Homo sapiens: one gene and its partners. The protein of the gene in region 4 interacts with the protein of the main gene of each other region in a pairwise test. Each region holds a gene or a part of one and is shown on either strand. Other genes may lie near its edges. The genes, in order: SETX, PRKCG, DBH and SAMD3.

What was found.
Region 1: the proteins of SAMD3 (region 4) and SETX interact in binary tests that used the Homo sapiens proteins (3 or more experiments, as listed by UniProt).
Region 2: the proteins of SAMD3 (region 4) and PRKCG interact in binary tests that used the Homo sapiens proteins (3 or more experiments, as listed by UniProt).
Region 3: the proteins of SAMD3 (region 4) and DBH interact in binary tests that used the Homo sapiens proteins (3 or more experiments, as listed by UniProt).

The regions. Positions count from the first base shown.
Region 1 is NC_000009.12:132,351,986-132,359,923, forward strand, and holds the start of SETX (probable helicase senataxin), read right to left. Parts: upstream 3,002-7,938; 5' UTR 2,932-3,001; exon of another isoform or gene 2,652-2,931; intron 1,771-2,651; 5' UTR 1,664-1,770; intron 1-1,663. UniProt on the Homo sapiens protein: Probable RNA/DNA helicase involved in diverse aspects of RNA metabolism and genomic integrity.
Region 2 is NC_000019.10:53,885,182-53,892,204, reverse strand, and holds part of PRKCG (protein kinase C gamma type), read right to left. Parts: intron 2,568-7,023; coding exon 2,456-2,567; intron 2,320-2,455; coding exon 2,188-2,319; intron 532-2,187; coding exon 375-531; intron 1-374. UniProt on the Homo sapiens protein: Calcium-activated, phospholipid- and diacylglycerol (DAG)-dependent serine/threonine-protein kinase that plays diverse roles in neuronal cells and eye tissues, such as regulation of the neuronal receptors GRIA4/GLUR4 and GRIN1/NMDAR1, modulation of receptors and neuronal functions related to sensitivity to opiates, pain and alcohol, mediation of synaptic function and cell survival after ischemia, and inhibition of gap junction activity after oxidative stress.
Region 3 is NC_000009.12:133,639,353-133,646,375, forward strand, and holds part of DBH (dopamine beta-hydroxylase precursor), read left to right. Parts: intron 1-493; coding exon 494-640; intron 641-2,854; coding exon 2,855-3,112; intron 3,113-4,060; coding exon 4,061-4,237; intron 4,238-4,865; coding exon 4,866-4,968; intron 4,969-7,023. UniProt on the Homo sapiens protein: Catalyzes the hydroxylation of dopamine to noradrenaline (also known as norepinephrine), and is thus vital for regulation of these neurotransmitters.
Region 4 is NC_000006.12:130,219,948-130,226,996, forward strand, and holds the start of SAMD3 (sterile alpha motif domain-containing protein 3), read right to left. Parts: upstream 3,005-7,049; 5' UTR 2,747-3,004; intron 1-2,746.

The DNA of each region.
Region 1 (7,938 bases), on a different chromosome or scaffold from region 4:
AGACTTATCCTTAGGCTATCCATTTCTCAACATTAACTAGCCAGAAACTTCAAATAACAATCTCTTTCTTCTACACTTCTCAGCTAAACATCTGGAAGTTTAGATTCACTACCTCCCAGCTCTTCAGCTCCTTTGCACTCTGGCTTCTACCCTTACACTCCACTGAATGTGAAGTCCCTAACAATCTTTACATTACCAATCCAATAGGTTCCTGACCTGACTCTGCTAAAGCATATGAAAATGCTGCCCATCCTTTCCTTACCTACAACACACCATTTTTTGGACACCACTTCTACCCAATCACCTTCATAATTACCCCTGCCTTTGTTACTCATATAAATGCTAAAGTTTTCGAAGGCTTGTCCTGAGAATTCTCACCTCTTCATTCAGTACTCTTTCTGGGCGGCCTACTTCAAACCACTGCTTCAACTACTGCCTAGATTGAAGCTGCCCAGACTGAGAATGTATTGTAAAACTTAATGCAGGCAGGGCGCAGTGGCTCACACCTGTAATTCCAGCACTCTGGGAGGCCGAGGCGTGAGGGATCACGAGGTCAAGAGATCAAGACCATCCTGGCCAACATGGTGAAACCCCGTATCTACTAAAAATATAAAAATTAGCTGGGCATGGTGGTATGCACCTGTAGTCGCAGCTACTGGGGAGGTTGAGTGAAATGATGCACTGTTCCACCTACTCAATAACTGACAGCCTAGCCTAGAACTCCAGATATATTCAATATCCAACTGCATACAGTGTATCTCTACTCACATATCTGACAGGCACCTCAAAGTAAACATGACCAGAACCCAACGAAGTCCTTCCCTTAAATCTGTTATTTGTTCTATATTCCCTTGTTGATGACATTACCATACATTCAATTTTCAAACCAGTAACCTAGGAATTATCCTATACGCTCCTTCTCCCTCAGCCGCAATCTCTGAGCTCCAGAGCCTACCCCTTAATTACATCTCTACTTTCTTCTCAGTGCAACCGCCACTGCCTTAGTTCAGTACATTTTCATCATTTGCCTGGATTACTGAAGAAGCCTAAATGATCTATTTCTTCTTTGATCGCCATCAATTCCTCCTCCAAAATGCTGCCAGAGGCCAAAGCCCCAAACTGGACTTCGAAAGCACAAATGACTCCTCCTCCAATGTTGGGATAAAATTCAAATTGCTGAGCTCAACACACACAAGGCCCGCGATGATCCAGCTTCCACATCATCTCTTTCCTCCACACTTACCTCCCTTGACTTGCTCTTCCTAAAACCATTCATGGTGACTGGTATTCCCTGCCTTTATGGAAGCTCTTCCACTGGCCTTGGAAACCCACCCTCCTACCTCTGCCCGGTACTTAACTGTGAATACACATCAGACTTACCTCAGGAACTTAAAAAAAAAAGTAGAAAAGATCCTATGGATAAAATTGTTTCCCTTTTAAAGAACTCCACTAAGATTCGAAGAGAAAGCTGGATTTGAGAACAACCAGTGTGCAAGCTCTTCCTGAGTGTCATCACGTCTGGGGGGGGGGCCTGTCCGACCCGTCCTCTCTTCCAGTCTATCTCTGATGACCTTCTTCTCTGTCCCTTTAGGACTCTGCACATGTTTCCATCATTGCACTTACCTTGGTGCTCTGAACTCCTGCTAAAAAAAAAAATTATTACCTGGACAAATGGCCTACAGAAAAGTGATCGTCTCAGCTGGGCTTAGTTGTGAACAAACACGGATTTGCATTCATATATGCCCAGACTCTGGCCCCAAAAGAACATTTCTGAAATTAAAAAACAAAAAACGAAATTGGTAAGTGGCATTTATACTCTATATCCCATCTGAGCCTGGTATCGATCCTATTACAGACAGATACTGCTGGCTGATGAGGAAGCCCAGATAGGTTAGACAACTTGGCTGTGGACTTCCAGGAAACAGCAGAACTGCAATTCTGACTCCCAGTTCCACAAGGGGCTGTCCCCACTCACGGGGACAGCTAGGCACCGAGCCAAAAATCCCCCAAGTTATTAGCCCGCGCAGGTAACATCAATCCTAGGATCCTCAGCTGTGTCACTTATCAAATACCACACTCGGCCTTCTCCTTGTGGAGCTCTTTTCCCTCAAGGCAGTCACCCCCGTTTCACTTGGGTCGTGCAAATTGCTGGGCACATCCTTAGATCCCCAGAAGTTGGGGAGGACGGACAAAGTCCTGTGGCCAGCAGCAAAAGCTCCAGCCCCTCCAAGTGGGAGAAACAGACTCTCCTCCAAACGAAGGGACCGGCCGGGCGCGGCGGCTCGGAGGATCCCTGGAGCAGCTGAGCTCAGCCTGGGAAACACAGCCAGGCCCTGTCTCTGCAACACATTTTGTTTTTAATTAGCCGGGCGTGGTGACGCGCGCCTATGGTCCCAGTTACTCGGGGGGATGAGGCGGAAGGATCGCTGGAGCCCAGGAAGACGAGGTTGCTGCGAGCCGTGACTGTTCCACTGCACTTCAGCCTGGGTGACAGAGCGAGACCCCGTCTCAAAAAAAAAAAAAAAAGAAAAAAGAAAAAAAAACAAAGGGAGGGACTCCAGGCGAGAGGCAGACGAGCGTGTGGAGGGAACCGACACTTTCCACCCCGAGACCTCCCGCTCAGCCCCAAGGAAACTACGCAGTATCCACACCAAAAACAGCTCACACGAGACCGCAGTGTAGACAACGGAAGGACAGGGGGTCGCAGCGGCCGGGTCCAGCGCGCAGGAAGGCAACAGGCGGCCGCCAGCCGTCGAGGGGTGCTCCCGCCCCCGCACCGAGGGAAGCGGCCGAGCCCGCGCCGACTCTTCCCCCATCCGCCCACCGGGACCTAGGCGCCGCGATGGTTCCCCGAAGCGGCCCTGCAAGCACAAGCCGCGCCTGCGCTCACGCCCGCCCGACCTACGGCCTCCAGCCCGCCGCTACCCTCACCGCTCTCTGGCTGGCGTCGGCCTCTAGCCCACCTCCATACCGGGCCCCGCTCTAGGCCACCAGCGGAAGTGCGGGCCCGCAGCCGCAGCTACCAACCAGCTGTTGCCGCGAGGTAGGCCCCGCCCCCGCGCTGAGTCGGCCGGCCGCAGGCCCCGCCCCGGCCGCTGCTTTCTGGTTTTGGTGCCCCCCAGGGGGCGGGGCATGGGAAGAGCGGCCGCGGTGCACCGCCCACGCCGGGCGCTGGCGTCACGTCCGGGCAGCTGGGGCCCGACCAATCCCGAGTCCCCGTCAGGGTGGACGGGGAGAGTTTGCCGCGGAACCTTGACCTCGGCCCCGCCCGGGGCTTCCTGCGGGTGGGGCGGCTCCGGGATGAGCTCTGCTGCGGGTGGGGTCAGCCCTTACCCGCTGGCCATTTCCGTTCCCTCTTTTTTCTTCTTTTTTCCACGCCTCAGGTGTCTCAGCGGATGTACTACGGTGACGAAGTAATTTTTCTCTTTAGATTTCCTTTAAAGACCTGAAATGTAAATTACATAAACGTGTAATTTCGGAGGAATATGTGTATATCCTTTATATTACAAGAAAGGGAGACCTTAGGTCTTGCGAACAATGCGCGCGATGCGCAACACAGCAGAGTAAATCCCTCGCTGGTGCGGTGGCTCCCGCTTCTAATCCCACCACTTTGGGAGGCCCAGGCGGGAGGCTCGCTTGAGCCCGGAGTTCAGAGACCAGCCTGTGCAACATAGCGAGACACCCGTATGTACAAAAAAAAATTAAAACTCAGCCACCGAGGCCGGGCGCGGTGGCTCACGCCTGTAATCCCAGCACTTTGGGAGGCCGAGGCGGGTGGATCACCTGAGGTCAGGAGTTCGAGACCAGCCTGACCAACATGGTGAAACTCCGTCTCTACTAAAAATAAAAAGATTACCTGGGCGTGGTGGCGGGTGCCTGTAATCCCAGCTACTCAGGAGGCTGAGGCATGAGAATGGCTTGAACCCGGGAGGCAGAGGTTGCAGTGAGCCGAGATCGCACCACTGCACTCCAGCCTGGGCAAAGGAGCGAGACTCTCTCTCCGGAAAAAAAAAAAAAAAAAAAAAAATTAGCACCTGTGGGCCCAGCTTGTTGGGAGGCTGAGGCAGGGGGTGGATATCCATTGAGACCGGGAGATCGAGACTGCAGTGAGCCGTGACTGTGCCACTACACTCCAGGCTGGGGAACAAAGCAAGACCCTGTCTCAGAAAAGTCTATAAATAAATAAAAATGAGTAAAATCCACTGGAAAGCCTATCCCCCCCCTTTTTTGTTTTTGAGATGGAGTCGCGCTCTGTCACCCAAGCTGAAGTGCAGTGGCGCAGTCTCGGCTCACTGCAACCTCCGCCTCCTGGGTTCAAATGATTCTCCTGCATCAGCCTCCCGAGTAGCTGGGAGTACAGGCGTGTGCCACACGCCCGGCTAATGTTCATGTTTTTAGTAGAGATGGGGTTTCACCATGTTGGCCAGGATGGTCTCAAACTCCAACCTCAAGTGATCCGCCCCGCCTCGACCTCCCAAAGTGCTGGGATTACAAGCGTGATCCACCGCACCCGGCCCCTACCCCCTTTTAGTAACGCCTACTACTGACCACGATGATGCAGCGTCACCGTCTTACAGTTAATAGAGGAGACAGGGAAATTAAACAATTAGTAGTGGTGACTCAGGCGATAAAAAAAGAGGCTGAGATGGGCCAGCTTGGGAAAAGTGGGTCAGATACAGCCTTACCGAGGAGAACCCTGGCCCGAGGATGAGGAGCAAGCCCAGGGGAACACTGCGGGAAAGGCCCAAGGCGAAGGAAGATTCTAGCAAGGGGGCGTGGCTTGTTGGAAGGGCGTGGTGGCCGTTATGCAAATTTAACCGTCTAAGGAGCAGCACGCGTTGACCGTTATTTTCCTCTTTTCTACTTCTTCATCCTGTCAAATATTTTGAACATATTTTGTTTTATCATATAACACTAATATACCAACACAGCCTTTATACCACCACAGTCATAAAATATAATTTTTTTTTTTTTTTGAGACGAGTCTCGCTCTGTCGCCCAGGCTGGAGTGCAGGGGCGCCATCTCGGCTCACTGCAAGCTCCGCCTCCCGGGTTCACGCCATTCTCCTGTCTCAGCCTCCCGAGTAGCTGGGACTACAGCCACGTGCCACCACGCCTGGCTAATTTTTTGTATTTTTAGTAGAGACAGGGTTTCACCGTGTTAGCCAGGATGGTCTCGATCTCCTGACCTCGTGATCCGCCCGCCTCTGCCTCCCAAAGTGCTGGGATTACAGGCTTGAGCCACCGCACCCGGCCATAAAATATAATTTTTATCATTTTTTTTAATGGAGAAAAGTGCCATGAAGGTAACTTGTGCCCAGAGCCCACAAAAGTCATAATTTCCTCCTGTCCCTGAAGCCCTCTGTAGGCCTTATCATCTTCCCACATTTTTTGTCTGTGAACAACATATAAATTTTACATGCTTTTTAACTCTGTATATGGAATTATGGAGGATGTATTTTTCTGCAAATTGCTTTTTACACTCAATGTTATGTCCTGAGACTCATTGATTCAAGGTGCATTCAGGAATTGTTGAGCCCAAAACTTACACAACCTATAGAATGTTAAACAGAAGCACTGCAATAGACTTTGTAAATATAAAATTAGAAATGAAAATTAATACTTATTTGGAATGAATAAATAAGTACAAATTACAAACTTCTAAAGCTGATAAAACCATAAACATGGCCAGGCGCAATGGCTCAGGCCTGTAATCCCAGCACTTTGGGAAGCTGAGGTGGGCAGATCACCTGAGGTCAGGAGTTCAAGACCAGCCTAGCCAACATGGTGAAACCCGGTCTCTACTAAAAATACAAAAATTAGCCAGGCTTAGTGGTGCATGCCCGTAGTTCCAGCTACTTGGGAGGCTGAGACAGGAGAATGGCTTGAACCCGAGAGGCGAGGCGACAGAGTGAGACCTCATCTCCAAAAATAAATAAATAAATAAATAAATAAATAAATAAATAAATAAATAAATAAATAAAAAGACTGGGAAGTATGAGGCCTCCAGTATCGTTCTTTTTCAAAATTGTTTTAGCTACTTAAGGTCCCTTGCTATTCCATGTGAATATTTAGAATTGGCTTGTCCCGTTTCTGCAAATAAATAAGTACAAGCAGTTGGAATTTTTATAGGGATTGAATTGTATTTTTAGATACATCTGGGGAATCAATTGACACCTTAACAATATTAAGTATAGCAGGTTCTCTAATAAGATCATTTTGTTCAATGTGGTTTTGTTATAACATTGATGAGAAAAAAAAAATCCATTCCTGCTCAAGGCTTTTTTTTGAGACGGAATCTCCCTCTGTAGCCCAGGCTCTGGAGTGCAGTGATGCGATCTTGGCTCACTGCAAGCTCCGCCTCCCAGGTTTCGGTTCAAGCAATTCTCCTGCCTCAGCCTCCTGAGTAGCTGGGATTATAGGCACGCACCACCACGCCCAGCTAATTTTTGTATTTTTAGTAGACACGGAGTTTCAGCATGTTGCCCAGGCTGGTCTTGAACTCCTGACCTCGTGATCCGCCTGCCTCAGCCTCCCAAAGTGCTGGGATTACAGGTGTGAGCCACCGTGCCTGGCCCCGAGGCCACTTTGTGTGTGGAGTTTGCCCCTTCTCCCCATGTCTGTGTGGGTTTCCTCCAGGTACTCCAATTTCCTTCCCGATTCCAAAGATGTGCCAGTTAGGTTGATTGGCATGTCTACATTGTCCTAGCCTGAGTGAGCATGGGTGTGTGTGTGAGTGTATACCCTGCAAAGGGATGGCATCTTGTCCAGAGTTGGCACCCACCTGGCACCAGGAAAGATTCTGGCCATCCGCGATCCTGAACTGGAATGAGTGGGTAGATTATTACCTTGTTAATCTTATTAATAAAGATTAGTCTTTTATTAATCTTTCTTGAATGTATAGCCTACATTTATTTCAATGTTTAATATTAGAAGTGTTTTGTGTGTTTACTTAGAAGTTTGGTCAGAATAACTGGCTTTTATGAGACAAGTCAGAACTTGTGGCTCAGAAGACAAACCCCACACACATTCAAGTGGATGAAAACAAGCCCCCTACAAGGGCTCTATCCTCCTCCTCCTCCTAGTTGTTCTTTAGTTTCAGAACCTGTTTGATGTGTTTTTTTAATCCTATATATATTTTACGGTTGTGACTTATCCATTGTTTGATTTTTGTACAAGAAAATCTTTGCTATAGAAATCAGTATACTATTTTTATCTGGAGAGAAGATATTATGGCAACTTAAACTGTGGTCAGATGTTAGAGAAAAATGTATAAATGCCTTCTTGCCATGCTATCAGTCATATTACATTCATTTTATATTGACTGACAATATCAAAAGTTTCTTTTTTTGTTTGTGTAAACTCTAATTTCTATCAAGGTGTAATGAATATTTAAAGTTGGTTTTTCATTACAAATCTCTCAGTGTTGGTTAACTGATTTTTGCCAGGACCATTATGCATTAAGCAAACAAATTCCACAGCCATTTGGGGGTAAAAGAGTAGGTTACTGATTTGAGATATTTCTTCTTTTTTAATGTAGGTGTCTACAGCTATAATTTGTCCTTGGAACACTGCTTTTGCTACATCCCATAGATTTTGGTATGTTGTATTTTTGTGTTCATTTGTCTCAAAGTATTTTATTTTATCTATTTATTTATTTTTGAGACAGAATCATTCTCTGTTGCCCTGGGTGAAGTGCAGTGGCATGATCACAGCTCACTATAGCCTTGATATCCAGGGCTCAAGCGATCCTCCTACCTCAGCATCCCAAGTAGCTGGGACTATAGGCAAATGCCACCATGCCTGGCTGATTTTTTCTTTTTTTTTTAGTAGAGACAAGGTCTTGCTATGTTGCCCAAGCTGGCCTCGAACTCCTGAGCTCAAGCAGTTCTCCCACCTCGGCTTACCAAAGTGCTGGGATTACAGGTGTGAGACACC
Region 2 (7,023 bases), on a different chromosome or scaffold from region 4:
CTATCACTCTGTCTTCCTGTCAACTGATCTCTGTCTCCCTGCCATCCCCCATCTTCTCCCCTCCCTCTCCATCTGTGTCTCTCTTTGGGTTTCTGCCTCTTCTGAGACTCTCTCTTCTCTCTCTCATCTCTGTCTAACTCTAAAGTTGGGGGCTTCAATGGAGACTAATTATACAGTGGTCTGGCTGTCTCTCCGTTTCTGTATCTCCATCCCACTCCCTCAATCACTCTATTCCCTTTTCCCACCATCTTCTTCTGCCCTTTTCTGGGTTCCCTCTATCCTAACCCCTCCCATCAGCTGCTCTCTGGGGGCCACTAGGACCCTCAGATCATTCTCTGTCAGCTGTCATTGCCTTCCCTGCACCCCAGACTCACAACACAAAGGTCTCATTCCACACAGGGTTTAGCGTGGCTTTCACCGTTCGGGTCTTCTGTTTCGTCAGGTTCCGAGGGTCTGGGATGAGCTTCAGTTTCACATAGGGATCAGAGAGACCATTGGGGTCCATAGGAATTAGGTTACGGGCCTCGCCAACTAAACGGGGAGTGAGGAAGAGTGTGACGGGTTAGAGATCCAGGAAGGGGCTCCCAGCCCTCCTCCAGTCAGCAATCAAGAGTTCCAAGCTTGGCCAGGCACGGCGGCTCATGCCTGTAATCCCAGCACTTTGGGAGGCCAAGGCGGGCGGATCACAAGGTCAGGAGATCGAGACCATCCTGTGAATGGTGAAACCCCGTCTCCACTAAAAATACAAAAAAAAAAAAAAATTAGCTGGGCGTGGTGGCAGGTGTCTGTGGTCCCAGCTACTCAGGAGGCTGAGGCGGGAGAATGACGTGAACCCAGGAGTCGGAGCTTGCAGTGAGCCGAGATTACGCCACTGCACTCCAGCCTGGGCGTCACAGCGAGACTCCGTCTCAAAAAAAAAAAAAAAAGAATTCCAAGCTCTCAGTCTCGTTTCTCATGACTTCTTACCTCTCCAGAACCCAGAAGACAGGGCATAGAGCCCTTTCCGCAACCAGTGACCCTGAAATCAGATCCAGAGCCCTTCTCTCCATTAGGAACCAGAGTTTGGACCCTGGCCATGTCACCAGTACTGAACCACAGCCTCCCTCAGAACCAGGTACTCTCCCTTCTCAAGATCCTTATACCCAGAAAGCCATTGCCGGGCACGGTCCTCACCCCTGTAATCCCAGCACTTTGGGAGGCGGAGGCGGGCGGATCACCTGAGGTCAGGAGTTCCAGACCAGCCTGGCTAGCATGGTGAAACCCTGTCTCTACTAAAAATACAAAAATGAGCTGGGTGCAGTGTCATGCACCTGTAGTCCCAGCTACTCAGGAGGCTGAAGCAGGAGAATCGCTTGAACCTGAGAGGCGGAGGTTGCAGTGAGCTGAGATCATGCTACTGCACTCCAGCCTGGGCAACAGAGCGAGATCTTGTCTCAAAAAAAAAAAAAAAAAAAAATTAGCCGGATGTGGTGGCAGGCGCCTGTAATTCCAGCTACTCGGGAGGCTGAGGCAGGAGAATCCCTTGAACCCCGGAGGCAGAGATTGCAGTGAGCCAAGATTGCACCACTGCACTCCAGCCTGGGTGACAGAGCAAGACTCCATCTCAAAAAAATAAACATAAAATAAAAACAAAAAAGAAAGCCATTGGCCAGGCGCGGTGGCTCACGCCTGTTAATCCCAGCACTTTGGGAGGCCGAGTCGAGGGGATCACCTGGGGTCAGGAGTTCGAGACCAGCCTGGCTAACATGGTGAAACCCCGTTTGTACTAAAAATACAAAAAATTAGCCGGGCTTGGTGACACGCGCCTGTAATCCCAGCTACTCGGGAGGCTGAGGCAGGAGAATCACTTGAACCCGGGAGGCGGAAGTTGCAGTGAGCCGAGATCGCGCCATTGCACTCCAGCTTGAGCAACAAGAGCGAAACTCCGTCCCAAAAAAAAAAAGAAAGTCAAAGTCATTAACAGGTGCAGAAAGTTGCAAGAAGCCAGGTTGGAGGCGGGGCTTCGAGCCAAAAGGGGTATGGCTGGGTGTGCTCGGCCTTTGGGGTGGGGTCAGGAGTGTGGGCGTGACCATAGAAAGAGGCGTGGCCCCATCTTTGGGGTAGGGCTGGGCCAGCACAAGTGCCTTGGGTCAGCCCCGCCTCACACTTGGGGAGGGGGCGGGGCCAGGCGAGGGGGCGGGGCCTCACCAGTTACGTGGATCTCATCTGCTGTGGGAGCCCGGATCTCCAGCTGCAGGCGCCCGCGGCGCTCGGTGTGGTCCACACCGCACAGGGAGGGCACGCTACGCACACAGCGCCGGTGCACGTTCATCTCGCAGCCTGGAGGGGAAAGCTGCGGGTAGCACCTCAGGCCCCGCCCCCAAGCCAAGACTCCACCCCCCACCCCATCCCGGGCATTTCCCGGAACCCAGACCGGGCGCTTTGGAAGGGCCCTGGCAAGGCCCAGGTCACTCACAGGAGCATTTCATGCCCTGGTGCACAAGCCCGTAGAGGAGGGAGCCACAGTGGTCGCAGAAGGTGGGGCTGCTGTAGCTATGCAGGCGGAACTTGTGTTTGTTCCGGGGGTCCTGGGGGCAGAGAAGACTGGCTTAGGGGGCGTTGGGAGGGTCCTAAAACCCCAGGGGAGGGGCCCTTTTATCTTTTCCTCCTGCCTTGCTCTCTAGGTCAGCCTGAGGCTCCATCTCTTTCACTCTATGTACCAATAATCATTGAGCACCTGCTGTGTGCCAGGGACTGTTCTTGGTGTGGGGACCCAGCATTAAACAAATGAAAAAAAAAAACCTCTTTGTCACATGGAGTTTACTTCCTAATGGAGGGATACAGAATGTAAACATGGTAAATAAATAAAACATATAGTTTGATGGTTGGTAATGGGTGCTCTGGAGAAAAAATGAGGCAGGGATGGGGACCACCAGAAGTTGGGGGATTGAAATTTTAAATACGGTGGTCCTGGCTGGGTGCGGTGGCTCATGCCTGTAATCCCAGCACTTTGGGAGGCCGAGGTGGGCGGATTGCCTTGAGCTCAGGAGTTCCGGACCAGGCTAGGCAACATGGCAAAACTCTGTCTCTACTAAAAATACAAAAATTAGCCGGACATGGTGGTGCATGCCTGTAATCCCAGCTACTCAGGAGGCTGAGGCATGAGAATTGCTTGAATCCAGGAGGCCGAGGTTGCAGTGAGCCAAGATTGTGCCACTGCACTCCAGCCTGGATGACAGAGCAAGATTCTGTCTCAAACAACAACAACAACAACAAAACTGTGTGCAGGGGGAGTGGCAGGGGGGCCTCGCTGACCAAATGATATCTGGGCAGAACATGAAGGAGGCAGGAGCTTCCAACCTCCCATAGTTCCCATCCCCCCAACTCCCACAAGTTATTATTTGAGGACTTGTGGGCCACCCTGAACCCCAGCTCCTTCACTGGCAGCTTCTGTCAGTGTCCATATGGTATGCCTTCTCTGAGCTCCAGGTGGAATGGAGAACATGACCTCTCAGTTATAATAGGAACCCAGGAGGCCTAAATAAAATAATTGGTGTACAAAACATAGCTGTGCCTACCACGTTAGATGCTCCCAATACTATTACTGTGGTTATTGTTAGGGATTTTATTGAAGTCCCTACATAGCCCTGAATGTAAGTAAGAGCTAGGCCGCTTCTCAGCTGTGTGATTTGGGGCAAGTTCATTCCCAGTTTTGAGCCTCAGCATCCTCCTCTGTCAAGTGGAAATAAATAATCTATATTTTGAAGCAATGCTAAATTTCCAGAGTCCATTAAGCAAGAATGCAGGTCATCAGTGAAGCTTCTCCTTCTCCCCTGCCACCCACTACCCCCGGGACAATATCTGCTTGTTAAATAACTTGATTCTAAGAATCCATTAAAAGGATTATCACAGGGTGAACATTTAGGCCATTCTTGGATTTTCATCTATGTTAGTGGGGTTTCTAGTTTGAATATATATTTGGGTAGAGGAGGGTGTTGGCAGTTTCCAGGATCCTTTTCAATGTGCTGGGCTTCTAAATATCTCCGCTGACCCTAACTCAAAGGGTTCCTGCCGCACTAAATAAGATGCTGTGTGTGAAGGTTCTCAGCAGGCTGCCTGACACACAAACCATCCACAGACAGAGGCTGCTGTTCTTATTCTCAAAAGTGAACGTCGCTGTTAAAAAGGAGACAGCACGGAGGCTGTGGTTACATACATCAGAGTTCAAATCTTGCCTCTATCCCCTACCCAGCTAGGTGGCCTCACCACGCCTGCCCCTTTTCAAAGCCTCAGATTTACCGCTTGAAAAGTGGGGGCATGTGCCCTCCCTGGGGACTAAATGAAATCATTCTTGCCAAATCTTGATCCATGTTACTTTTTTTTTTTTTTTTTTTTTGAGATGGAGTCTCACTCTGTCGCCCAGGCTAGAGTGCAGTGGTGTGATCTCGGCTCACTGCAACCTCTGCCTCCGGGGTTCAAGCGATACTCCTGCCTCAGCCTCCCGAGTAGCTGGGACTACAGGCGCGTGCCACCGTGCCTGGCTAATTTTTTGTATTTTTAGTAGAGACGGGGTTTCACCGCGTTAGCCAGGATGGTTTGGATCTCCTGACCTCGTGATCCGCTTGCCTCAGCCTCCCAAAGAGCTGGGATTACAGGCATGAGCCACCATGCCTGGTCAAGGCATGTTACCTTTTTTTTTTTTTTTTTTTTTTTTTTTTTTTTTTTTTTGAGACAGAGTTTTGTTCTTGCTGCCCAGGCTGGAGTGCAATGGCGCAATCTTGGCTCACTGCAACCTCCGCCTCCTGGGTTCAAGTGATTCTCCTGCCTCAGCCTCCTGAGTAGCTGGGATTACAGGCGTGTGCCACCACGCCCAGCTAATTTTGTATTCTTAGTAGACACGTGGCTTCTCCATGTTGGTCAGGCTGGTCTCGAACTCCCAACCTCAGGTGATCCACCCGCCTCGGTCTCCCAAAGTGTTGGGATTACAGGCGTGAGCCACTGTGCCTGGCCTGCATGTTACTTTTAAGAAGATCAACTGCCAGCAGTGAATCACTTGAGCCCCGGAGGTCAAGACTGCAGTGAGCAGTGATAGCACTATTGCACTCCAGCCTGGGCAACAGAGTGAGACCCTGTCTCAACAGCAAAAAAAAACAAAAACAAAAAAACCCCCGAGTGATGCAGAGGAAAGATCTCCTTCTCACTATTCACTCGTTTCCTCATTGGTCATAATAATAATTTTAACAAGAATAAAAAATAATATTTTGGCTCTTGCTATGTGTCAGAAACCATCCCAAATGTCTGACTCACTAAATCTTCAAAACAATCCATAGTGAGCATAATTATCATCTCCACTTTACAAACAAGGAATTCAACAAGTGCAGAGAGGTAAATTAACTCAGGAAATGTCACAGAACCAAAAAGTGGTGGAGCTGGGATTCAAACCAGATAGACAGGGAAAAATAACCAAATAAGCTGTTGTGTGGATCCAACCTATACTGTATACAAAATACTTGAGGCCAGGTGCAGTGGCTCACGCCTGTAATCCCATCATTTTGGGAGGCTGAGGCAGGAGAATCGAGTGAGACCAGGAGTTGAAGACCAGCCTGGGCAATATAGTGAGTGAGACTCCATCTCTACAAAAACATTTTTTTTTAATTAGCTAGGTGTTGTGGCTTGTGCCTATAGTCCCAGCTACTTGAGAAGCTGGGGCAGGAGGAGCACTTGAGCCTGGAGAATTCAAGGCTGCAGTGAGCTATGATCCCATCACTGTACTCCAGTCTAGGTGACAGAGTGGGACCCTGTCTCAAAAAACCCCAAAAATCGGCTGGGTGCGGTGGCTCACGCCTGTAATCCCAGCACTTTGGGAGGCCGAGGTGGGTGGATCACGTGAGGTCAGGAGCAAGACCAGCTTGGCCAGCATGATGAAACCCTGTCTACTAAAAATATAAAAATTAGCCGGCCATGGTGGCTCATGCCTGTTCTAGTCCCAGCTACTCGGGAGGCTGAGGCATGAGAATCGCTTGAACCTGGGAGGTAGAGGTTGCAGTGAACCAAGATTGCACCAGTGCACTCCAGCCTGGGTGACAGAGTGAAACTCCATCTAAAAAATACCCCAAAATCAAACAAAACAACAAAAACAAAAAAAAATCTTTTTTTTTTTTTCCAAGACAAAGTCTTGCTCTGTCACCCAGGCTGGAGTGCAGTGGCGTGATCTTGGCTCACTGCAACCTCTGCCGCTCAGGTTCAAGCAATTCTGCCTCAGCCTCCCGAGTAGCTGGGATTACAGGCAAAAAACAAAAAAAAAAATCTTGATGAGTGTACCCAATGAGCACTGGATGCATCAGACTTATCTGGTGTTGGTGGCGGAGGTGAGTGGACGAGGGGGGTCATCAATCACATACACGTGCTGGTAGACAGTGGTGCTCAATATATGTTCTATGAAGTCACATCTTCTATGTAGACTTCTGTTATTTTCAGCTGAGAGGGTGGTAAAACGCCTCATGGACTTCTGTGGATCTCTCTCTCTCTGCCTCTCTCTCCATCTGTACATCATAAAACTGTCTCCGATCTTGTGTCAAACCCTGGGCGAAACTCTGAACCCACCTGACTTCAAAACAAGCCTGGAAGTGTCCAGATGTGTGCTGTCCCATTTGGTGGCCACTAACTACATGTGGCTGTTTAAATTTAAGTCAGTTCTGCCGGGCGCGGTGGCTCACGCCTGTAATCCCAACACTTTGGGAGGCCGAGGCGGGTGGATCACAAGGTCAGGAGTTCGAGACCAGCCTGGCCAACATGGTGAAACCCCATCTCTACTAAAAATACAAAAAAAATTAGCGGGGTGTGGTGGCATGCGCCTGTAGTCCCAGCTACTCAGGAGGCTGAGGTAGAAGAATTGCTTGAACCTGGGAAACGGAAGTTGCATTGAGCTGAGACTGCGCCACTGCACTCCAGCTTGGGCAACAGAGCGCGACTCCGTCTCAAAAAATAAAAATAAAAAAAAAAAATTTAAGCCAATTCAAATGACACGAAATGGAATTTCTAATC
Region 3 (7,023 bases), on a different chromosome or scaffold from region 4:
TGGTTTCTCTCTCCTTTCCTGTTCATGTCCCACCCTGTTCCCAACTCTCCCCTTTCTGAGGCTCCGCAACTCTCCTGCCTGCATGAATGTGGGCAGCATTGGTCTGAGGCATTGTTCCCAGTCTTGAGGAGGCCTTGGGAGCCTCAGGCATCTTCTTAAGAAGCTCAGTGTCCCGCCCGCCAGGCCCGGGAATGCCCATGGCTAACAGAACCTGTGACCTGCTGGCAAGTGACAGCCCTGGTTCCTGGCTGCAGAGGAGGAACCAACTCCACTGTCGGGGCTCATCTCCACTGTCTCCAGGCAGAAATGGAGATAGAAGGTGTGAGTGAAGCCACAGCCCCAGGCAGAACCCTCAGATCCACAGGGACTGAGGCCCAGCATCCCCAGATCAGCTGGCAATGAATGCGGAGCTCTGCCGGGGAATGCCCTCTTCCCCTGTGGATTGGCCCGGCTTGGCTCCTTCATGCCTGGAGCCCAGTGCTTGTCTCTGCAGGACGCCTGGAGTGACCAGAAGGGGCAGATCCACCTGGATCCCCAGCAGGACTACCAGCTGCTGCAGGTGCAGAGGACCCCAGAAGGCCTGACCCTGCTTTTCAAGAGGCCCTTTGGCACCTGCGACCCCAAGGATTACCTCATTGAAGTAAGGGGTGGCCGCGAGTACCCAGGAGGGCGTGGGCTGCGTGTATCATGCTGCCATCCTGTGCCAATGTCATAGTACCTTTCCTGTCCCTGATAAGTCTGGGGCCTGGGCCTGGCCAGCTATGACAGAGAGAAAGCCAAGGAGGATGGCCAGAGGCAGTGGTGGGGCCAAAGCACTTAGGATGGTCCAGCTCTGCTATTGCCCCTGAGCCCTCAAAGACGCAGCTCTTTGCCAACACGTAGCTGACATGGTTTCTAGATGCGGGGCTTGTGCTGAAGCCTCTCCCATTGGACTAGACCTTGCTTCTGGATGTCTCTCTCCTCCTGGTCCTGTTAACCATCAGGTGGGATTCTGGAGCCCAGGCGACCTGGCTTTCCATCCCGGCCCTGTTGCCAGCTCGCTGTGAGGCTCGGGACAACTGCCCCCCTCCTCTGGACCTCACTTTGCCCATCTGTAAAATGGAGATGGGAACTAGATGATCTGTATGGCCTGACCAACTCTGGGAGTTCATGGGAGCCATAAAACATTGTAAAAGCCATAGGCTTCTTATGCTGCTCTAAGAGCCCCCCAACCTCTTAGGGAAAGCAACCCACCTTGCCCTTGAAGACAAAACTCTTTTAACTCTAGCACACCTGACAGCTTTTGTCTTGTGTAAGTAATCCTTTGGTGTGGCAGTGGCCTGGGCTGGCCGTTAGTGCCAGGTCTTAATCATGGGTGTAGCTGAGTGACCACACGGGAGGCCAGTGCCATCGAAAGATTGATTGCATTTCCGGAGAGAAGGGGCACCTGTGCCGTGCAGGGCCACCTGCAGAGCCCTGGGTTTGGTCAGGAGGCAGATGCAGGAGCTAGGGGAGAGCCCAGGCCTGAGGCTTTCTTGGGGTTTCCATGGGAAAGGCCAGGCAGGGCAGGGAAGTTGCTTCATTTGGACAATTCTGGTGGGCTCTGGGTGGCCGGGGTGGTCTCTAGTTGCCTGGTTCCTGGCCCTAGGGTGATTTAGGGCTGAGGCAATATTGGCCTGGTGTGTGACAGTCAGGTGGAGGAGGTGGCTAAGGATATGGGCTTGGGACGGGTTGGAGGGTTGGGAATATGATTCTCACACAAGCGTGAATGTTGGAGGGAAGGGCAGGTGTAAACAACTCTGGCCATCTGTTTGAGCCTGCAATCCATTAATAGATGCCAAATAGACAAATACGGAATCTAAGAAAACAGAACAGCTGGCTGTTTGCCAGATGAGGAAACTAAGGCCCGGAGACGGGGAGTGGATGTACCCAGGGGTTCGGGGTGTGCTGGGGCAGACCTGGTGCCAGAAGAGGTGTTCTTCCAGGAGGTTGTTGAGCCCTTACCCTGCTTCCCAGTGGACGAGGCAAGGGTGAGCAGAGAACCCTCTGGAAGCACCTCACAGGGGGAGGCCAATGCCTGTGTGTGCTCAGCCCAGTGGCCCCAGGCCAGGTATAGGGGCCTTTGCCTGGAGTTCTGGGCGTCCCCTGCACAGGGCGGCCCATCGGCTTTCCGCAAACTCAAAGAGCAAATTAGCCACCCACACGGGTCTGCACTGTGGAGTGCCCAGAAAGCTATGAAAGGCACTTTCCACACCCGATCCCCGTTTCCATTCATGACAGCATGTGAGGAAGCCAGCCCCACAGCTTGCCTCCTGAGTCTGCCTGTGGCCTCCAGCACCGCGTAGATCCATGGAGCTTTCTGTGGCTGCTTGGTCCCCTCCTGCCAAGCTGGTGGTGACTACATAATATAGCGTGGCTCCGCAGCTCAGCGTGACCATCAGCAAGCCCCAGGGTGTTTCCTTCCCTTCATAGAGGGCACTGAATCCTCAGGCTGGGCTGCTGAACTGACCAATGATCCCCCACACCCAGTCCCCAGTGACCTTGGGGTTGGTGGAGGGAACAAATGTTCCGGCCACACTGGCTCACGGCGGGCCCAGTAGTCACTGGTTGAATGGATGTTAAGTGAATGTAGGTGGAATGTGTTTAGAAGAGAAAAGTATTTGATGGCCGGTGCAAATAGGGGATCCTGGGGGTCGTCAGCCCGGGATTTGGCCCCAGCCAGGGCCATGCAAGCCTCAAGGGTCCCTTATTCACAGAGATGAGAGTGAGGTGTGTCACCTGGTAGGTGTGGGTGGGCAGGGATGTGGCATCCTCTCAGGAGCCCAACTCTGGGGGCTCTGAGAGGGCGACCAGCTGAACCCTGTCTCGGCTGCAGGACGGCACTGTCCACTTGGTCTACGGGATCCTGGAGGAGCCGTTCCGGTCACTGGAGGCCATCAACGGCTCGGGCCTGCAGATGGGGCTGCAGAGGGTGCAGCTCCTGAAGCCCAATATCCCCGAACCGGAGTTGCCCTCAGACGCGTGCACCATGGAGGTCCAAGCTCCCAATATCCAGATCCCCAGCCAGGAGACCACGTACTGGTGCTACATTAAGGAGCTTCCAAAGGGCTTCTCTCGGCACCACATTATCAAGGTACGTGCGGGTCCAGGGCCGAGGTCCTCGCCCAGCCCTGCCTTCCTCCCGGGCCTGGGTTGTCCCTGACCCTGGAGAGCTGTCCACAGTCCTGGTTGGACCAGGTGTCCTCTTATCACTGGAACCTCAGGCACCTGCCTGAGCAGGGGAGCAGCAAGTGGTCTTGGCTTCCCCATCACTCTGCTCACTCCCCTACCCTCAAAGGGCCTTGGAGCTCCCACTTCCCTGCCTGGACCAAAGTGACCAACATCTTGACTTCTGCATCTTTCCTTGGGACTGGAACTGCTGTCTGTCTGCCAGGCCACCTCCCCCTTCATGAAAAAGCAGCTCGAGTCAGAACTCACTTGCTCTCGAACACCCGTCCGGGGAAGACAGAATAGCAAAGGCGATAGCTGTCGAGTGTCCACTATGCCACTAGTCCCGGGGGAGGGGCGAGGTGATCCCTCCTTCATCATAAGAGCCCCTAGTTTCCAGCAGAGGAAGTGTGGCCCAGGGAGGTTGAGTGTCCAGGGTCACATAGCAAGAAGGGGCATGTCCTTGAAGGTGCACTCAGAGAGGTTATGTGAGTGTCCAGAGTCACACAGCAGGAAGAGGCATGGCCTTGAAGGTGCGCTTTGGGCCCGGGCTCTAACCTCAGGGCTGCCCTGCCTCCCACTGGGGCTGCAGGAGCTGGCCCGGCCACAGCCCCATATGCATGAGGACGGCTGCGTCCTGTCCCTGCCTTGGCCTGTACGAACCTCATTTCCTTCACTCTGGAGCTGCCTACGGGATTTCTTTCTGGGCTGATGGCTCCACCCTCAAGGCTGTGAACCCCAGAAGTGCCCCTGAAATTGTCTGGATCATCCCTCCCATTTTACAGATGGGCATTCGGAAGCCCATGGAGGAGGGCTGCTGGGGAGGGGAGGGTGGGCGGCCGGTTCCCGGGCTCAGAGGGCTGCCTCCTCACAGTACGAGCCCATCGTCACCAAGGGCAATGAGGCCCTTGTCCACCACATGGAAGTCTTCCAGTGCGCCCCCGAGATGGACAGCGTCCCCCACTTCAGCGGGCCCTGCGACTCCAAGATGAAACCCGACCGCCTCAACTACTGCCGCCACGTGCTGGCCGCCTGGGCCCTGGGTGCCAAGGTGCGTGCCCTGCGACCCCAGCATGGTGTCTCCTGCCTGGGCCCCTGGCATCCCCACACCTCTGTTTCCCCAGCTTCACCGTCTCAGAGGCTTCAAGAAGGGGCTCCCAAGGGGGCTCACGAGGCCACCAGAAGGGCCAGGCCTGAGGTGGCCCCCTCGCCTCTGTGATGTCTGAAATGCTTCAAGCCTTTTTTTTATTTTCCACAGAAACGCAAGTGCCGCAGGACCTTATGCCCTCAGTGGGTCCTGATTCTGTTTCCCAACTGGAGTCAGGGTTTTGTGTACAGGTGGTCCCAGGGCTGGCTGGCGGTGGGGCCAGTGTTGAGGCCTCCACAGGCTGAGACGATGGGGGTCTCCCCAGCTCTTACACCCGTCTAGAGAAGGGGTTTTGGGGGAAGGCTCAGCCCTAGGCACCAGCTCCTCTCCCCAACTCCCTGACCCGAGTCTCACAGGATGTTCCTGGGGCGTGTAATGAGCTGCCTGTCAGGAGGAAGCATCGCTCTAATCCTGCTGCGCCCCCTCCACCACCCCTGAGGCTCAGGCCCCAACAGTTGACTGGGTTTGCCCCTGCCCAGACCTGGGGCCCTCTCAGGACACACCCGTCTGTCTGACACCTTGCCCCACACAGGCATTTTACTACCCAGAGGAAGCCGGCCTTGCCTTCGGGGGTCCAGGGTCCTCCAGATATCTCCGCCTGGAAGTTCACTACCACAACCCACTGGTGATAGAAGGTAGGCGGCTCTGCTGCCATCCTCCTCAGAAGCCCTAGGACTCAGCTGTGTTGAGCCAGTGAGCAAATCCCGCCCTTCGTCTGCCCAGCATGGTGCCCCCGCTGTACAGCTCCTCTTGGCACGAGGCCCTTGCGTCTGCCTCATCCGCTGTCCATCTTCCATGGCTGTGGTGGGCTCCCAGGGACAGGACCTCGAGGGGCTCACTCCTCACAGCTTCGCCAGGGCCCAGCAGTGGCCCCACACCTCCCTCCTCGTCCCTATAATACGGGCTGCCATCGGCGCAGCACTGTGCATCCCAGGGGAAAGGACAAGGAGAATTTTCATAAGGGAAGCTGCCAGATGCCAAGTTCCAAATACAGGGAGAGGTGTGTGCATAAACAGGGAGGTGGTAGTAAAGCAGGGCATATTCCAGGACACAGGCGCTCCGGCCTGGCCAGAGTGCAGGGACGGGAAGGGGAGCTGGGGCAGCTGCTGTTGGATCACCCATACCTGAGGGTGGAGTGAGCAGGGTCAGCTTTTAGCATGGCAAGGCCAGGTGATGCTGTCTCAGAAACTGAAAAAAATACTTCCCTCTCTCTGTTGCACCAGCATCTTTCACCATATATAGACACACACGCACACAATGCACACACACACGCACACACACATGCACACATGTACACATATGCACGCAGAAGCACACACATGCACACACTTTTTCTCTCTCTCTGAATGGTGCTTCTTCTTTTCATTTGTGCAAGGTGCAGAAGTGGCCTAAGAGATAGGTGCTAGGCTGTGCCTCACCACCTTGGGGACGCTGGGTGGATGACCTCACCCGCTGCCTGTTCTCCCACCTCCCACAGCTATTGTGAAGCTGGGAAAGGCTCACGCACAGAACTTGCTGTGGGCACGGGGCTGTGCTCAGCTAACAGTCGCCTGTGGTTTTTTTTTTTTTTCCTGGCTGCATAAGTAATACCTTCCGCCACTGTTGGAGTTATCTCCACATGCACAGAGAAGGGTATAAGTCAGCTTGGGCCTTAGCATGACACGGGATTTATTGCTCATTTAAACCCTGAAAGCAAATGGATTTTTGAAAACTCCTGAAGCATCAGGGAAGTCTGTCTCTTCATGATTATCTGGTTGTATTTATGGATCCTTTGCCAAATATAAGGACGCTCCTGTCACTTCACCCATCTTGAGATGGGCTGCTTTTCTATAAATATCAAAATCCCACAATTATTTCATGATTTAATCCCCATCTGAATTTTAACCAATTGCAACACCCTTTTTATTATTATCCTCTGATGTAATCAGCCTGGAGATACAGGAGCCGTTTGAGTTTGGATGGTGTAGGGGTGTCGAGGGAAGAAGGCAGAGGCAAGAGGAGTTGTTTTGGCCTCATCTTAAAGGAAACAAGTAGGGAGATGGTTGGGCCCCCTGGAAGTGCCCTGCACCCCAGTCCACAGCCCTGGGTTTGAACCTCAGCTTGGCCACTTCCCAGCCCTGTGGTCTTGTGTGGAGTCTTCAGTTCAGGCTCCATCCTCAGTTTCTTAATCTGTGAAATAGGGCTGATGATTCTCACTGTGCAAAACTTCCATGAAAGGGGTAGGTTATGCTTAGAGCATTTTTGGCACCCAGGGAAGATGTTAGTATCTGTACCACCCTCTTGGTTTGATCAGAAAGGGCAATGCATGTACACTGGTGAGAAGATGGACAGCAGAAAAGCATGAAGAAGATGAAACCACCCCCCAGCTCCCGGCTCCAAGTTTTGAAGTGAGCACTGGTCACCCAGCTATGTGTCTGTCCTGACTGCTTTTCTGGCCCATTAATTTTTTTCTTGTGACTAGAATTTTATATCTTTTTTTTTCATTGTTGTTTGTTTTTTTACTTAAACTTCATCAGAAGCCTCTTCCCTGTGAATTAAAACCCCTTGTCAATTTCACACTCCTTGCCGCCTGACATCCCTTTCCTGTACATAACCCAGGGGGCAGAGCCTCCTGCTGCACAGCCCCTCCAGACCACCCCGCCATGTCCGCCATGTCCACCATGTCCACCATGCATCCGGGGGCATGGGGC
Region 4 (7,049 bases):
GAAAAAGTGGTGAGCACAGTCATAGTAACTTAAATTTCATATGTTTACATTTTTTTCTTTTTCTATTTTTTTGAGATGGAGTCTCGCTCTGTCATCCAGACTGGAGTGCAGTGGCACTATCTCGGCTCATTGCAACCTCCACCTCCCGGATTCAAGCCATTCTTTTGCCTCAGCCTCCTGAGTAGCTGGGATTACAGACGCGTGCCACCATGCCAGGCTAATTTTTGTATATTTAGTGGAAATGGGGTTTCACCATGTTGGCCAGGTTGGTCTCGAACTGCTGAGCTTGTGATCCACCTGCCTCGGCCCCCCAGAGTGCTGGGATTACAGGTGTGAGCCACTAGCCTGGCCAATTTTTACATTTTCAAAGAAACTAAAGAGCCACTTATCTGGGAGGTTTAGTTAAATTAATGAACAAAAATAGCAATGAGCCAGAGTCCCAGAACTTTGGAACTTTTGAGTCACAAACACCCTAGTGTTTTGGCCTTTGAGTCAAACTTATGGTTTATCCCTGCTTCTGCCTCGTTGACAGCCAAAGCTTATGGTTCAGCAACACAGATTACAGTCCTGCCAGAGATGGTAACTGTGAACTGTGCTATTGAATTTTATGAAAAGCTGGATGTGTGACTGAGAAGTCTTGATAGTTTGAAGATGTCATTTCCCTCAGAATTAATTTATAAATTCCAATTAATATACATACGTGGTTATATGTTTTACTTACTATGAGGCTAGTTTTCATGTGGAAGAATAAATAGGTAAAAAGAACGAAAAATGCTTGACAAAAGGACTTGCACTTCCAGATGTTAAAAAATGTTATGCTATTAACAGCATGGTACTGGAGGAAAAGAGAACAGATATTGAAACAGAATAGAAACTTAGAAACAGAAACATTCATATGGAAGTACTGAAAATATCTTTTTTTTTTTTTGACAGTCTCGCTCTGTTGCCCAGGCTGGAGTGCAGTGGCACGATCTCGGCTCACTGCAAGCTCCGCCTCCCGGGTTCATGCCATTCTCCTGCCTCAACCTCCCGAGTAGCTGGGACTACGGGTGCCCACCACCACGCCCAGCTAATTTTTTTGTGTTTTTAGTAGAGACGGGGTTTCACTGTGTTAGCCAGGATGGTCTCGATCTCCTGACCTTGTGATCTGCCCACCTTGGCCTCCCAAAGTGCTGGGATTACAGGCATGAGCCACCACGCCCAGCCAGTGAAAAGATCTTTAAAATTGGTGACAAAGAAGGGATTAGTCAATATATTTTGTTGGGATAATGCCTCATAACACCTACACAATAAATTCCTCAGATAAGTTAAATATGTAAATATGAAAAATTAAAAAGAGTTTAAAATAATCTAAGATTACATAATAAAAATAAAATATTGATAGATTTGACTAAAAAGGAAAAACGCATGTGTACACATATATATCACAGTGGACCCTTGAACGACACAGGGGTTGGGACGCTGACTCTGCTATGCAGTTGAAAATTTGCAAGTAACTTTTGACTACCCCCAAACTTAACTACTAATAGCCTACTATTGATCAGAATCTTAACTGATAACATAGACAATTAACACATATTTTGTATGTTATATATATTATATACAGTACTGTTACAATAAAATGAGTTAGAGGAAAGAAAATGTTATTAAGCAAATAACAAGGAAGAGAAAACATTTACTATTTATTACATGGAAGTGGATCATCATAAAGATCTTCATACTCGTCGTCTTGCAGTGAGTAGGCTGAGGAGGAGGAGGAGGAAGAGGAGAGTTGGTCTTGCTGTCTCAGGGGTGGCAGAGGCAGAAGAAAATCTGCATGTAAGTGGACCTGAGAGGTTCCAACACATGTTGTTCAAGGGTCAACTCTATAATCCATAAAACCAACTAAAAAATTAATACACCAATAGAAAAAAATAGGAATAGGTAACTCTTGAACAAAATTTTAAACCAGTATCTGAAAAATCTACATTATTTGTAATAAAAATAATTAAATACCATCTTCATTTATTCCATTGGAAAAGGTGAAAATTAGCAAGAATGCAAGGTCAGTTGTTCTCTTACACACTGCTAAGGGGAGTATAAAGTGGCACAACTTGCCCTGTCATATTATTCCCATTTTATAATTGAAAGTCCTGGAGTTTACAGGGTAACTCGCCTAAGGTTCCTTTGCTTGTAAAGGTAAAAGTGATTTGAATCCAATCTATCCAACTTTAAAGGGTACTAATGCAAGCCAAAAACATTAAAAATATTTCTACATTCTGACCCCAAAATAGCATTTCTAAGAATGTGCCTAAAGACATTAACAGAAATGAACACAAAGATGTGTGCCATAGCAATGGTCCGAATAGCAAATAAATTGGACAGATAAAATTTCCAGCAATAGGAATTGGCCAATGAATTACAGTAATTTATATTTAAAATAAAATACTATGTAGTAATCAAAAATTGTATCTAGACAAATAACTATGTAGAGAGAAACAGTCATGGATATGGTTAACTGCAAATAAATTTAAAATAGTATGATTCAGATTTGTGGAAAGAATAAAATAAAAGTAGAATGAAATGCTTGGTTACACAAAGGCTGGGAAAGCATATACTAGAAGGCAGAAGTGGCAATCTCTGTTTGGAGGAATTAATGTTTTTTGTTTGTAATCTGCCACTCTTAAATTTTTCTCAATGAAAGAATTTTATCTTAATATCAGAAAAGTTAGAGTTTTATAGAGAAAAGGTAAAAAGTGATATTTACGGATTATTGCTGGAGAGGCTTTTGGTCCATCTCTTCCAGAAGAGAAGATCAAAGGAGAGAGCACCCCTCCTCCCCAGGCAAATCCGATCAGTGGATGTGGTTCTGGTTCCTTTGTTTTATCTGAAAAATGGAAGATATCACCTACAAATCTGGAATCTTGGTTTCTCTTGAAAAATCAAAAGTTCTGGTGATACTGGGTTCATATTTCTGAATGGCAGCAACTGAGCAGTGGCTGCCCCATTGAAAGACAGCAAGACTGGGAGCCTCACAGTACACAGGAAGCATAAGGTAAGTTTGAAACAGGGTGGATCTCAGACAGCTAACGTTTGCACCTCTCAAAGGAAGAAGATTCTGACAAGTGTGACAAATACCCATGTATGTACATACATGTTTACCATAATATATCTTTGGAACATTTAATTCTTCCTTAGTTACCTTTTTTAAGCTCCTAGAAGAAATAACACTAACTAGAAAAAAAATTTCCTATATCAATCTTAAGGCAGATATAATAATAATGTATTAGAATTTAGACATTGAATTCAAAGTCAAGGACTCAAAGCTTTGCATCTCAGAAGGTTCTAGTGTCTTGAGGCTTCATTTTCTTTGTAGCTACATCATTGAACTAAAATGCACAAACCTTTATTTAGCAGACATTGGCTGAATGTAATTCTCGTTACATAGCTCAGTGTGTACGTGATAGTGCAGGTGATAGCTGAACATTTTATAGCTCTGAGTAGTGGCAAGAACTTACATTATTAAAATATTACAACTATTTTTTTGGAGTTACTCATTTGTTAGAACACATGAAAGGTGACTTCTGTATCCACCTATATTGCTCAGCTGGTAGAGTCAAGCTGGGCTCTCTTGATCTGTTAACACTAAGTGCTGGTCTGACTTTGTAGGCCTCTTCAGGAAGAAGGGGATGCAAGGTAGTGGATCTTCTTAATGCAGTGTGACTCAAAGTGAAACTTGGAAACACCCTTGCAGGGCGTGCGATGGGTGTGACTCGCTTCTTCAGTACCCTGCAGCTCAAACCCCTAGAGGGAGCATGCAGACGGGCAGGTCATGGGGAGCATGGGCTCCTACCCCATGGCAGCACCTAGGGTTGAGTGTTTACAGCTCCAGAAGCCCCAGTGGGAGTGTGTTACAGTGCAGTCTTTCAGCTTAGCCATCCGCAGGTGGCTTGTGTTAATCAGCTCAATTAGATCCTCTGCCTTATCGCAAGGACAGAGGGCTTTCTGTATCCCAAGGTTCTTGCCTTAATGTACCAGAAAAATTGAATCACATGTAGGCTTGGAGAATGGGTGCACAGTTTTATTGACTGGTGGAAGTAGCTCTCAGCAGATGGATGGGATCCACAAGGGGAATGGAATGGGAAGGCGGTCTTCCCCTGGAGTCAGGCCGCTCAGTGGCCTGACTCTCCTCCAACCACCCCCAGGCAAATTCTACGTGGTCCACATCATACTGCTGTTGATGTCCTGCCAGTCTGTCAGTGTATTCTGCCAGTGTGTTCCTCTTGATGTCCAGCCGCTTGTGTCTGTGCCCGCTAGGGTCTCAGGGTTTTTATAGGCAGAGGATGGGGGTGTGGCGGGCCAGAGTGCTTTTGGAAAATGCAACATTTGGGCGTGAAAACAGGAGTGCCTGTTCTCACTTACGTCCATGGGTACAGGCCTGAGGGTGGAGCCCTAGCCAGGGACCCCATTCTTCTCTACCCAGCACTTCCCTGCCCGCCTCCCGTATCAAAAGCAAAGCACAGATGGGAGGTGTGGAGACACAAAAAGGCATAGGACCCTGTGTTTCTCATGAGTGACAAATGCTCATGCTTCTGCCAGCCCTAGGTTCATGTGAGGACGGGCCAGAATGTTCAAACTTTTGTTTATGCAAAAGCACTCTATTTATTTATTATTATTATTATTATTATTATTATTATTATTATTATTTTTGAGATGGAGTCTCCCTTTGTCACCCAGGCTGGAGTGTAATGGCACGATCTCAGCTCACTGCAACTTCCACCTCCTGGGTTTAAGCGATTCTCCTGCCTCAGCCTCCTGAGTATCTGGGACTACAGGCACGTGCCACCACGCCCAGCTAAGTTTTTGTATTTTTAGTAGAGATGGGGTTTCACTGTGTTAGCCAGGATGATCTCGATCTCCTGACCTCATGAACCGCCTGCCTCGGCCTCCTAAAGTGCTGAGATTACAGGCATGAGTCACCACGCCCAGCCCGAAGCACTCTTTTTAGAGTTGGCCCAAAAGGTAAAATTCATACCAATTGGTAGGCTATAGTCCATCATTAAATATGAGTCTGTGTGTCTGAATTTGTGTGTATGTGTGTGTGTTAGAGAGAGATAAAGAGAGACAGACAGAGACAGAGAGCAGTACTGAGCAAGAGAGTGAGTGAGCATGGGGAAGAAAGTAAGGAGGAGAGGAAAAGGTTATGTGAATGATTAACAAGTAAAAAATAATGTTACTGAAACACCAGGGGTTCAGTTTAGGTCCTGCTATTTGCTGCACAGAAAGCCAACGACTGAGACAACAAGTATTGCCAAGGAAGAAGGCTTTAATCAGGTGCTGCAGTCCAGGAAATGGGAGCTCAGTCTCAAATCCATCTTCCTGATCAACTAAAATTAGAGGTTTATATAGCGGGGAAGAAATGTTAAATATGTATGGGAAAACAAGAATGTGGAAGGAGTAAGGGAGCAATTACAATGAATGAGAGGCTGGTATCTCATTGTCTGGATCTGGTGAGTTTCAAGCTTTAAAACCAGAAGGATTAATTTCTATATTTAAGAAAAACTGTCTATGGGACTACTGGATCAGTTTCAGTAAGATAGGCATATTAGAAATAAAGACTGTAAGGATTATAATAGCACATAGCTTTCCTCTTTAGATTGTTCCAAGGTAAACTTATTTTTAAAAATCCTTACATTCCAATCTTAACTGCTGCCTACTCACTTCTACCATTCTTTGATTACATATGGGAACAAATGTGGCACACCAATATAAAGGTGAGAGTAGTTGGAAGAAGAGGAAAAATATTTATTCATATATTAGGTCATCCAAAAAGCTTAAGATATGAGAAAATTCAGTATTTCTATAACCAGGCCAAAAACTAACTTGTCATTTCAAACTCCTTGGCATTTGGAAGCTTGAAAAATGCTTGCCTGGGCACCTATTCCTGGTAAAGTGCTAAGGAGAGACGCCTAAGGAAATTGAGGGGTCAGCCTGATGTTGGCTTAATCCTGGCTCCATTGTCTTCTGATCACATCACCCTTCTTATCTAATTGATGTGATCACTTGTTGAGTTATCTCATCCAGTTATTCTCTTCCTGGTACAGTCTTCTATCCACTGTTGCAGAAGTATCTGCAGTAATTCAGGACAGCGCCGCTTTTCCCAGGAAGGGGTATTAGTGAAGCTGTCATTCTACCTTTCTGGAGAGCCTGATGGGCAGACTGGAGCTTGAGGTGTTATTGAAGGGTGCAGAGGTTGCTGCTGATCCCCTGTGTTTCTCTCTGTTGAACTCAGAATTCAGAATTTTATTTTTAAGAATGATTTTCCAACTTACCTAATATAAGAACAAGGGGTGTACTTCATGAAAATATTGATTCCTAAGCCCTTTCTTAGAAGATTCTGATTCAGGTGGGTAGAGTGAGTTCTTATAGTATTTCTAATCATTACCATTGATTCTTATGATCAGCCAAGTTTGAGGAGCAATTGAAAGATTTATTATGATTTATTTCCAATGTACAGAGCCCTATAGGTCAAAGTTAGCACACCATCCCCAAATGTCATTATGCACAAATTATACCTTTGAGAAATGTGTATAACACTTTATAAAAATAATTATGAGGGGCCGGGCACCATGGCTCACGCCTGTAATCCCAGCACTTTGGGAGGCCAAGGCGGGTGCATCACCTGAGGTCAGGAGTTCAAGACCAGCCTGGTCAACATGGTGAAACCCCGTCTCTACTAAAAATAAGCTGGGCATGGTGGCAGGCGCCTGTAATCCCAGCTACTGTCAGTGTAGCTTTTCTGTAGGCAGGAGAATCGCTTGAACCTGGGAAGCGGAGGTTGCAGTGAGCCGAGATCATGCCATTGCACTCCAGCCTGGGCGATAAGAGCGAAACTCTGTCTCAAAAAAAAAAATTATTTACATCACTGAAATTAAATTAGTAACATTGTGTTTACAAGGATTTTTCATAAAGCTAAGGATGTACAATAAATACAGTAATCTGATATTTTTTACATTTAAATAAATTGTGCAAAAATATACATAATGTAAAGTTTACCGTCTTAACCCTTT